2 separate regions of the Homo sapiens genome follow, and region 2 is linked to region 1. Evidence: fine-mapped expression QTL. A gene starts in region 1. The other region holds a variant in brackets. All regions are shown on one strand. Distances are between the middles of the regions. Region 1 holds the start of INTS15 (integrator complex subunit 15). Region 2 has its middle 7.2 kb from the start of ZNF316.

Region 1 (5,366 bases):
TTTATGTTTATGTTTTTATGTTTTATGTTTATATTTCTCTTGGGTACATTCCACCTAGAAGTGGCACTGCTGGGTCATATGGTAACTTTTTTTTTTTTTTGAGACAGAGTCTCACTCTGTCACCTAGGCTGGAGTGCAGTGGTACCATCACAGCTCACTATGACCTGGACCTCCTGGGCTCAAATGCTCCCACCTTGGCCTCCCAAAGTGCTGGGATTACAGGTGTGAGCCACCATGACTGGCCCAGAATCACTTTTGATTTGAGGTCTTTATATAATAATGACGGTTAATCTTTTGTTATACTGTTTTTTTGTTTGTGGATCTTTTGGATCTTGGGAATGGGGTTTTGGGTTTTTTGGGGTTTTTTGGTATAGAAAAGTTCAGACATTCTTTCTCATCAAATTTCTTTTCTTTGTAACTTCAACAAGAAAGTCTCCTCCATCAGGAGTTTTGTTAAATGTTCTCTTTTCTTGTGACTTTCAAAAATATTAAACTTTCTAAATTCTTCATTTTGCTTATTACAAAAATAACTTACAAAACTTTAAGCAGCGCAGTTCCTATGGTCATATACCATTTACGGAGTCAGTTTTGTTTTTACCCAAACAAGATGACAGTGTAATCCTTACATCTTGCCTTTCTCATTAGTCAATATATTAAGTCTTTTCACAATCAGTACATAGAAATTGACATCATTTTTCATGGCTCCTCGTTTTCCCATTGTGTGACCATCCCAGAGTTTACCCTTCCTGACGGATGGACATTTAACTTGTTTCTTGGCCAGGCACAGTGGCTCACGCCTGTAATCCCAACAATTTGGGAGGTCAAGGCAGGAGGATCACTCAAGGCCAGGAGTTTGAAAGCAGCCTGGGCAACATAGCAAGACCCTGTTTCTATTGATTTATTTATTTATTTATTTATTTTTAGATGGAGTCTTGCTCTGTCGCCTAGGCTGGAGTGCAGTTGCACAATCTCAGCTCACTGTAACCTTCACCGCCCGGGTTGAAGCAATTCTTCTGCCTCAGCCTCTTGAGTAGCTGGGATTACAGGCTTGTGCCACCACACCCGGCTAACTTTTGTATTTTTAGTAGAGAAGGGTTTCACCATGTTGGCCAGGCTGGTGTCAAACTCCTGACCTCAAGTGATCTGCCCGCCTCGGCCTCCCAAAATGCTGGGATTATAGGCGTGAGCCATTGCGCCCGGCCCCTGTTTCTATTTATTAAGAAAAGGAAAAAAACTTCGGAAGAGGGGCTGATAAAATCAATGATACAACGAATATCCTTGTACATCTATTTTTGGGGTTGTATTGTTTTAAGAAAGACATTGATCTCTTTTGTCCATCTGGATTTTATATTGATGAATGAAGTCTGCATTTATTTTATAAATAGCTAACTGGAATAGCACATTTCCTAAGTAAACTTTCCCTTTTCCTTCAGTGTGAACACTTCATTCATCCCACAGGAAACTCTTGTATGTACTGGGATTATTCTGGGCTGCTTCTCAGTGCTGTTTATGTTCAGTTTGTCACATCTGGACACAAGTAGGTGGGCTGAGGAAGCAGCGCTGGTGGCTGTGGCAGGCCCAGGGTTGGCCAGTGTTCACTCTCATGGATGTCACAGTCCAGCTGCCTAAAGCACTACCTTTTCTCTGCTCCTAGTACCTGTTCCTGACTTTTCCACGGATTGTCTTCATGCTGGGCTTTGTCGTGGTTCTGAGCTTCCTCCTGGGTGGCTACCTGTTGTTTGTCCTGTATCTGGCGGCCACCAACCAGACTACTAACGAGTGGTACAGAGGTGACTGGGCCTGGTGCCAGCGTTGTCCCCTTGTGGCCTGGCCTCCGTCAGCAGAGCCCCAAGTCCACCGGAACATTCACTCCCATGGGCTTCGGAGCAACCTTCAAGAGATCTTTCTACCTGCCTTTCCATGTCATGAGAGGAAGAAACAAGAATGACAAGTGTATGACTGCCTTTGAGCTGTAGTTCCCGTTTATTTACACATGTGGATCCTCGTTTTCCAAGCATGGCTTGTTTGTTTTGATTTCTGCTGTGCTTATAAATCACTTTCGGTGGGCAAGGGAGAGAGGGGAAAATGGGTGTTGACTGAGGAATCCCCCTTGCTTGTCTTCTTTTGAAACCGGGCATCTCTGAAGTCCTGGTGTCAAGGGGATCAAGAGATGACTTCTCAGAGGTTCTAGGTGATGCTGAGACCTTGGTGTCTCTAAACTCTGGGCATGTGGACAGGAGGGGCTTGCGGCCGTGTCTCTGACCTGTGTGATGTGCAGGAGGGTCTCATTGACTCAGCGCCTGCGCGTTGTGCCTGGCTGTGCTCTCTTTTATGCCCCCTCTATTCTCCTCTCTCCCCCAGGGGATTTTCATCTCAACAACAGAGTGTCCTCACCCAGGCCTGCCTTCCGGCCAGTATGGGCTTGTACATCAGGCACCTTCCTGCATGTGTGGCCTCCGGCCTGCCCTCCTCTAGCCACATTCAAGTCCTTTCTCACCAGTTTAAAAATTGTGAAAGTGAACTGCCACCTATTTCAGAGGAGACATGACTGCCAGAAACGAGGTCTTGGTGCGGAAGGTCTTTGGAGTGGGAGGGCTCTCAGGTGCAGGTGGCAGGTGTTCTGCACCTTGCTAGGCCAAGGAGCCCGCAGTCAGAGAGGCTGGGAAGTGGGAGTCAGGGGCAGGGGGCCTTCCAGCCATCTTCCCCCGTACCCCCCAGCTGAGAACAGATGGAAACGTGAAGACGGGTAGCTGGGGCGGCCAGGGAACCCAAGTCCGCTGGCCGAAGCCAAAGCCCGGCACCACCCCCAATTCTTGCTGGTGGAAAGCACCGTGAAATCAACCAGCGGCAGCTCTGAACGCGACGCACAGCCCGCGAGGGAGCCTGGGCAAGGACGGAGCGGGCCTGCACCGGCGGTTGGGCGGGCTCCGGGGGCGGGGTCCACCTGGGACCGCGGCGCGCCCCTCACCGCTCGCGCCGCCAGGGGGCGCCCTCCGGAGAGCGCGCCTAGGCCGCGGCCTGCGCTTGGCCCCTGCGGGCCGCCGTCTCCGTGCCCGGCATTCGGCCGCTGTTCGGCTGCGCGGCGGCAGCTCCCGGCGGCTCCTGGCGGCGCCGCAGTCGGACCTTCGGGCGCCTGCTGGCCGGCGGCAGCAGCGATGGCCCCCTGAGCAGGCAGGGAGCAGGCGGCGGCAGGCGGGCAAGCGGGCGGGTGCCGCAGCCCAGGCCCGGGTCGCGCCTCTTTGTTTCCACGGGTAGCGGCGCAGTCCCGGGCCCCGGGCGGAAGTGAGACGCGCTCGGCGCGGGGGCCGCGGCGGCCGCACCATGAGCGACATCCGCCACTCGCTGCTGCGCCGCGATGCGCTGAGCGCCGCCAAGGAGGTGTTGTACCACCTGGACATCTACTTCAGCAGCCAGCTGCAGAGCGCGCCGCTGCCCATCGTGGACAAGGGCCCCGTGGAGCTGCTGGAGGAGTTCGTGTTCCAGGTGCCCAAGGAGCGCAGCGCGCAGCCCAAGGTGCGGCCTGAGACGGTCGGGTTCCCGGGCCCCGCAGGCGGGCGGGCGGGCCTTTTCCCCAGCGATGCAGGGCTGTGTCAAGCCGCGGGCGCCCCATGTCCAGGATCCCCGCGCTCGCGCTCGGCCTCGCTCCTGCAGCAGCCCCCAAACCCTTCTCCGGGTCCTGCAGTGTTGCTCAGCTGCCTGTCCAGTCTGCGGGGCGTGTGACAGCCGAGTCTTGGTGTTAAAGGGACAAACTGGCGACTGCCCGCTCCCTAGAGGTCTGTTGGGCTGTTACCGAAAGGCTCATCCTGAACCCTCCAGGAGGATGTATAATGATCTGTATGGCTTTCTTCTTACATCTTTTTCTTTTTTTTTTCTTTCTCTGCCTTTTTTTTTTTCGAGACAAGGTTTCACTACGTTGCCCAGGCAGGAGTGCAGTGGTGCAATCACAGCTCACTACAACCTTGAACTCCTGGGCTCAAGTAATCCTCCCGCCTCATCCTTCTGAGTAGCTGGGACTCCAGGCGTGCACCACCATGCCCAGCTAATTTTTGAATGTTTTGTAGAGATGGGGCCTCCCTGTGTTACCCAGGCTGGTCTCAAACTCCTGGGCTCAAGATTCTCTCTCCTTGGCCTCCAAAGTGTTGGAATTACAGGCGTGAGCCACAACGCCTGGCCTATATGACTTTTTTCTAAGATCAACAGCAAAGATCTCCCTGAGACCTGAGCTTTACGAAGGGCGAAAAGTTCTACGGGAACTTTACGAAGGGCGAAAAGTTCTACGGGAAAATACTGTTATTTCCTGTTTTTCTTTTTTTTTTTTTTTTTGAGACGGAGTCTCACTCTGTCACCAGGCTGGAGTGCAGTGGTGCGATCTCGGCTCACTGCAACCTCCGCCTCCCAGGTTCAAGCGAGATTCCTGCCTAAGCCTCCCGAGTAGCTGGGATTACAGGTGCGCGCCACCATGCCGGCTAATTGTTGTATTTTTAGTAGAGATGGGGTTTCACCATGTTGGCCAGGCTGGTCTCGAACTCTTGACCTCGTGATTCGCCCACCTTGGCCTCCCAAAGTGCTGGGATTACAGGCATGAGCCACCGCGCCCAGTCTATTTCCTGTTTTCTTAATGTATGAGTTAATAAGTACGTTACAGCCACATTTCTTAACGCTTTTCCGGGATTTCTTTTGCAGAGACTGAATTCCCTTCAGGAGCTTCAACTTCTTGAAATCATGTGCAATTATTTCCAGGAGCAAACCAAGGACTCTGTTCGGCAGATTATTTTTTCATCCCTTTTCAGCCCTCAAGGGAACAAAGCCGATGACAGCCGGATGAGCTTGTTGGGAAAACTGGTCTCCATGGCGGTGGCTGTGTGTCGAATCCCGGTGTTGGAGTGTGCTGCCTCCTGGCTTCAGGTACTGCTCAAGAGAGACCCTCGGCCGGGTGCGGTGGCTCATGCCTGTAATCCCAGCACTTTGGGAAGCTGAGGTGGGCGGATCACTTGAGGTCAGGGGTTCAAGACCAGCCTGACCAACATGGCGAAATCATGTCTCTACTAAAAATACAAAATTAGCCGGGCATGGTGTTGCATACCTGTAACCCCAGCTACTCAGGAGGCTGAGGCAGGAGAATCACATGAACCCGGGAGGCAGAGGTTGCAGTGAGCTGAGATGGTGCCATTGCACTCCAGCCTGGGTGACAGAGCAAGACTCCGTCTCAAAAAAAAAAGAGTCTCCCCTGAGAGTCTCTGAAGATGATTTTGCTGTTCGGAATTCTCATTTAATTAGATTTCTGGAGTGTTTTTTGTTTGTTTGTTTAAATTATTTTTTTTGGCCATGCTTAGTGGTTCACTCCTGTAATCCCAGCACTTTGGGAG
Region 2 (5,366 bases), 40 kb after region 1:
AAACTCAAAACAGGCTGGGTGCAGTGGCTCATGCCTGTAATCCCAACACTTTGGGAGGGTGAGGTGGGAGGATCACTTGAGTTCAGGAGTTCGAGACCAGCCTGGCCAACATGGCAAAACCCCATCTCTACTAAAAATACAAAAATTAGCTGGGTGTGGTGGCGGGCACCTGTAATCCCAGCTACTCGGGAGGCTGAGGCAGGAGAATTGCTTGAACCCGGGAGGCAGAGGTTGCAGTGAGCTGAGATCGTGCCACTGCACTCCAGCCTGGACGACAGAGCAAGACTCCATCTCAAAAACAAACAGAGACAATAGGGAAAAGAGACCTTAGTATAGAACTGATAGAACTGGGTTCAATTCTGGCCAGGCGCGGTGGCTCACGCCTGTAATCCCAGCACTCTGTGAGGCCGAGGCAGGCAGATCACGAGGTCAGGAGATCGAGACCATCCTGGCCAACATGGTGAAACTCCGTCTCTACTAAAATACAAAAATAATTAGCCAGGGGTGGTGGTGCGTGCGTGTAGTCCCAGCTGCTTGGGAGGCTGAGGCAGGGGAATCACTTGAACCCCAGAGGCGGAGGTTGTAGTGAGCCGAGATCGCACCACTGCACTCCTGCCTGGCGACTGAGCAAGACTCTGTCTCAAAACAAACAAACAAATGAAACAAAACCCTGAAAACAGAGGATGCCCCCCACACCTCCCCCATGAAGGGCTCCTGGCCTTCTGCCAACAGGAGGCAGCCTAGGGAAAGAGGGAGGACAAGCGGGCCTATGTCAGCGGCTGGTCCACCTGCCATCCTGCTGCTTATGTGAGCAGGAGGAAAGAGGAGAGGTGATTGGCAGCCTGCCCCAGGGACATGGCCTGCCTGGGCCTGTGCACCCCGAGACAGCAGGAAACAGCAAGAACAAGAAAAACAGATACCCACATGGACATTGCTGCTCAGCCCAGCCAGCCACTGGCCTGTTAGTGGGCAGCTTTCCCTCCCTGGAGGGCACTGGAGGTGGCTAACAGAGGTGGGCTGGAGCACCAGAAAGGCAGCCCCTCACTTTAGCCTCAGCTTGAGCTCCTGCACCGTGCCGCTGGCTATCATGGCATCCAGGGCCTTCAGCTCATGGCATCAGGCCTGGAGTAGGGCAAGGCCCCCCCACAAGTCCCAACCATGAGGTGCAGCCTGAGAGTCACACACCAATAATCAAGGGATGACAGAAAGAGGAGTTCCCCGGCCTGCATGGGGACAGGTGGTATTTCAGCCCAGCCTGAAAGGTGACCAGAGAGGGGGATGCAGTGGTGGTAGGGGACATTTGTCTTGAGCAAGAGCCTGAGGTGGGAGCTGGGGGCAAATCCAGGGGTCTGAGTGGTCCTGTGGCTGGAATTTCTTGCCCTGGTGGGGGGTCCATGGTGGCTATGAAAGGCGTCAGGTGCTGGGGAAGGTTATGACTTGCCAAGGTGGATGGGGTGTGGCATGTGGTCCCGATGGACAGCAGGAAGCCATCCGAAGGCTGTTTAAGGGAACCAGGTGAGAGATGACAAGACTTCAAGGTGACAGAGTTAAGCTCTGGTAACTGGAATTTTTTCTTTTTTTTTTTTTGAGACAGGGTCTGACTCTGTCGCCCAGGCTGGAATGCAGTGGTGCAGTCATAGCTCACTGCAGCCTTGAACTTGGGCTCAAGCTCAAGTGATCTTCCTGTCTCTGCCTCCTGAGTAGCTGGGACTACAGGTGTGCACCACCATGCCCAGCTAATTTATTTTTATTTTTATTTTTATTTTTATTTTATTCATTTGCTTTTTTTGAGACACAGTTTTGCTCTTGTTGCCCAGGCTGGAGTGCAATGGTGCGATCTCAGCTCACCGCAACCTCCCTCTCCTGGGTTCAAGTGACTCTCCTGCCTCAGCCTCCCGAGTAGCTGGGATTAAAGGCTCCTGCCACCTCATCCCGGCTCATTTTGCATTTTTAGTAGAGACGGGGTTTCTCCATGTTGGTCAGGCTGGTCTTGAACTCCCGACCTCAGGTGATCCGCCTGCTTCAGCCTCCCAAAGTACTGAGATTACAGGCGTGAGCCACTGAGCCCGACCTCTAATTTTTTTTTTTTTTTTTTTTTTTTTGAGACGGAGTCTCACTCTGTCACCCAGGCTGGAGTACAGTGGCGCAATCTCGGCTCACTGCAAGCTCCGCCTCCCAGGTTCACGCCATTCTCCTGCCTCAGCCTCCCGAGTAGCTGGGACTACAGGCGCCCGCCACCATGCCCAGCTAATTTTTTGTATTTTTAGTAGAGACGGGGTTTCACCGTGTTAGCCAGGATGGTCTCGATCTCCTGACCTCGTGATCTGCCCACCTTGGCCTCCCAAAGTGCTGGGATTACAGGCGTGAGCCACCACGCCCGGCCCCGACCTCTAATTTTTAAATTTTTTGTAGAGGCGAGGTCTTGCTATGTTGCCCAGACTGGTCTCAAACTCCTGGGCTCAATCAATCCTCTCGCCTCAGCCCCCCACAAAGTGCTGGGATTACAGGCATGAGGCACTGCCCAATAATTCCCAGTAAATGGGAATGATTGTTCAGCAGAAAACTGATCCCTTTGGGAAAGTTAACGTGGGGAGAATGTGGCCTGGCTCTATGGTCCTTGACACCACCGTGAAAGACCAGGTCACCCTCTGCCCATTGCCCTTCCAGAAGAAGCTTGTCCTCCCTGCCCCAGCTCCGAGTCCACCACAGTCTCCCACTCAGGCAGCTGCAAGGCATGCTGGGAGTGAGTGGCCACTGGGGCTGGGGGCTGTCGGGGGCAGAAAGGAGGAGCAGATTCCTCCCTCCTGGCACCTACAAAAGTGTGTCCACCAGACAGGGCTAGATCAAGTCCAGGTCCCCGCAATGGAATGGGAAGGAGCAGGCAGCAGTGGGGTCTCAACTGCCGATGAGGAGGCATGCAGGGCTGGAAACACAGTCTTTCTATTTCCTTGAGCGGCCTTCAGCCTCCCCGGAGCCTCTTCTCCACTCAGCCTTGACCTTTGAGTGTCTGTGCCCGTCTCTGCATTGCCCAGCTGTAGCAAAAATCCTGTCAAGTCAGTTTAGCCAGAATCTCCACCCTTGGTATCTGATCAAATCCCTCCTCTCCCACCACCTGCCAGGTGCCCTCTGATCACTCTTGCCTGCCTTCAGCCAGGATCCTGGGAGTCAGTTCAACCACAACCTCCCACTCCTTCGTATTTTTCCACCCACCCACTCCCCTCCAACCTGCTCCTAGGCTGGAAGTCTCCACTTGTCCCTGCTGTATTCAGAATT[G/A]AGCCCAGTTCTATACTGAGGTCTCTTTTCCCTATTGCAATAGTTCCTGAATAAAATCTGTTTTTTACCGTTTTAACTACTGTCCAGCTTTGTTTTCTTTTTCTTTTTTTTCTTGAGACAGGGTCTCAGTCTGTCGCTCAGGCTAGAGTGCAGTGGCACCATCATAGCTCACTGCAGGCTCACCCTCCCGAGTAGCTGGAACTACAGGCTCGCACCACCATACCTGGCTAATTTTTTCTACTTTTTGTAGAGACGAAGTCTCACTATGTTGCTCAGGCTGTTCTCGAACTCCTGGGCTCAAGTGATCGATCCTCCCACCTTGGCTTCCCAAAGTGCTGGGATTACAGGAATAATATGGTTTGGATCTGTGTCCCCACCCAAATCTCATGTTCAATTGTTATTTATTTATTTTTGGAGACTGAGTCTCCCTCTGTCACCCAGGCTGGAGTGCAATGGTGTGATCTCAGCTCACTGCAACCTCCACCTCCTGGGTTCAAGAGATTCTCCTGCCTCAGCCTCCTGAGTAGCGGGGATTATAGGCACTCGCCACCACTCCTAGCTAATTTTTGTATTTTTAGTAGAGACGGGGTTTCACCAGGTTCGCCAGGCTGGACTCAAACTCCTGACCTCAGGTGATCCACCCACTTTGGCCTCCCAAAGTACCGAGATTACAGGCCTGAGCCACCATTCCTGGCCTCTCAAGTTCAACTGTAATCCCCAGTGTTAGAGGTGGGGCCTGGTGGGAGATGATTGGATTATGGGGGCAATTTCTCATGGTTTGATACCATTCCCCCTGGAGCTGTCACCACGACAGTGAGTTCTTGTGAGATCTAGTTGTTTACAAGTGTGTGGCACCCCTCCCTTCTCTCTCATTCCTCCTGCTGCCACCATTTGAAGTGCTGGCTCCCCCTTCACCTTTTGCCATGACTGTACGTTTCCTGAGGCCTCCCCAGCCATGCTTTCTGTATAGGCTGCAGAGACATGAGCCAGTGAAACCTCTTTTCTTAAATTACCTAGTCTCTGGCAGTTCTTTATAGCAATAGGAGAACCGACTAACACGAAACATGAGTCACCGCTCCCAGCCTCACCTATGGTTTTAATAGCAGCACTACTGCCTTCAGCCCACTCCAGGCACACAGAGGCTCCGTGGGGGCATCCATCAGCATCCTTCTGTGCCAGGCTCCCTGCCAGCCCCTGGTGTGAGAGCTCAGGAGGAGCCCAGGAGGGCTTCCTGCAGGAAGAGACAGCTGAGGAAGTCCCGAGAGCCGAGTGAAGGGGAGCTCTGCCCAGTCAATGTTCAGTCCCTGCAGGTGGGTCTGTGCAGATACGGGGCAGGCCCATGTACTTGAACGGAGATGCTCTCGGCCTCACAGAATTCCAAATGCCCCAGATGCCTGTTAACTTTTCACATACCCTGTGTCCCTGCCAGTGAGACACACGAAGGCTGAAGCATAGAACAAGCTTCATGCCAATCACTGGGTGGGCTGGCACCCTCCTCACTGCCAGCACCCACCGTGGAGGATGGGCAGGAGCCAGGCAGATGACACCCCAGGAACTGTTTCATGAGTATGCTTGGATATTCCCCCAGCCCCAACCCCACCAACTGCTCATAGATAGATGACTGACATGGAATTGTACTAGTGCAAAAAGGGTATGATTTACTTTTTTTTTTTTTTGAGACGGAGTCTCACTCTGTCGCCCATACTGGAGTGCAGGGGCGCGATCTCGGCTCACTGCAACCTCCGCCTCCCGGGTTCAAGCGATTCTCCTGCCTCAGTCTCCTGAGTAGCTGGGATTACAGGCACCCACCACCACGCCCAGCTAAATTTTTGTATTTTTTTTTTAGTAGAGACGGGGTTTCACCATGTTGGTCAGGCTGGTTTTCAACTCCTGACCTCAGGTGATCCACCGGCCTTGGCCTCCCAAAGTGCTGGGATTACAGGCATGAGCTACTGCGCCCCACATTATTTAATTTTTGAGATGGAGTCTCACTCTGTCACTCAGGCTGGAGTGTAATGACACAATCTCGGCTCACTGCAACCTCTGCCTCCCGGGTTCAAGCGATTCTCCTGCCTCAGCCTCCCGAGTAGCTG

The links.
Region 2: its variant is fine-mapped to the expression of INTS15 in whole blood (INTERVAL, PIP above 0.99).

The regions. Positions count from the first base shown.
Region 1 is chr7:6,586,963-6,592,328 of GRCh38, forward strand. INTS15 (integrator complex subunit 15) reads left to right here and starts at 3,059. Exons shown (of 6, transcript NM_024067.4): 1 at 3,059-3,513; 2 at 4,684-4,905. The coding sequence starts at 3,322. It overlaps ZDHHC4 (zDHHC palmitoyltransferase 4), which reads left to right. Exons shown (of 8, transcript NM_001134389.2): 8 at 1,655-2,412. The coding sequence ends at 1,948. LOC124901582 (a long non-coding RNA gene) reads right to left here and starts at 2,942. Exons shown (of 2, transcript XR_007060201.1): 1 at 2,498-2,942; 2 at 1,961-2,263. RefSeq lists enhancers at 2,201-3,039, 2,664-2,813 and a silencer at 2,884-3,383.
Region 2 is chr7:6,627,456-6,632,821 of GRCh38, forward strand. No RefSeq gene overlaps it. Among named protein-coding and RNA genes, the nearest start is that of ZNF316, 7.2 kb to the right of the region's middle. The variant G/A (reference allele first, on the strand shown) is at 3,274.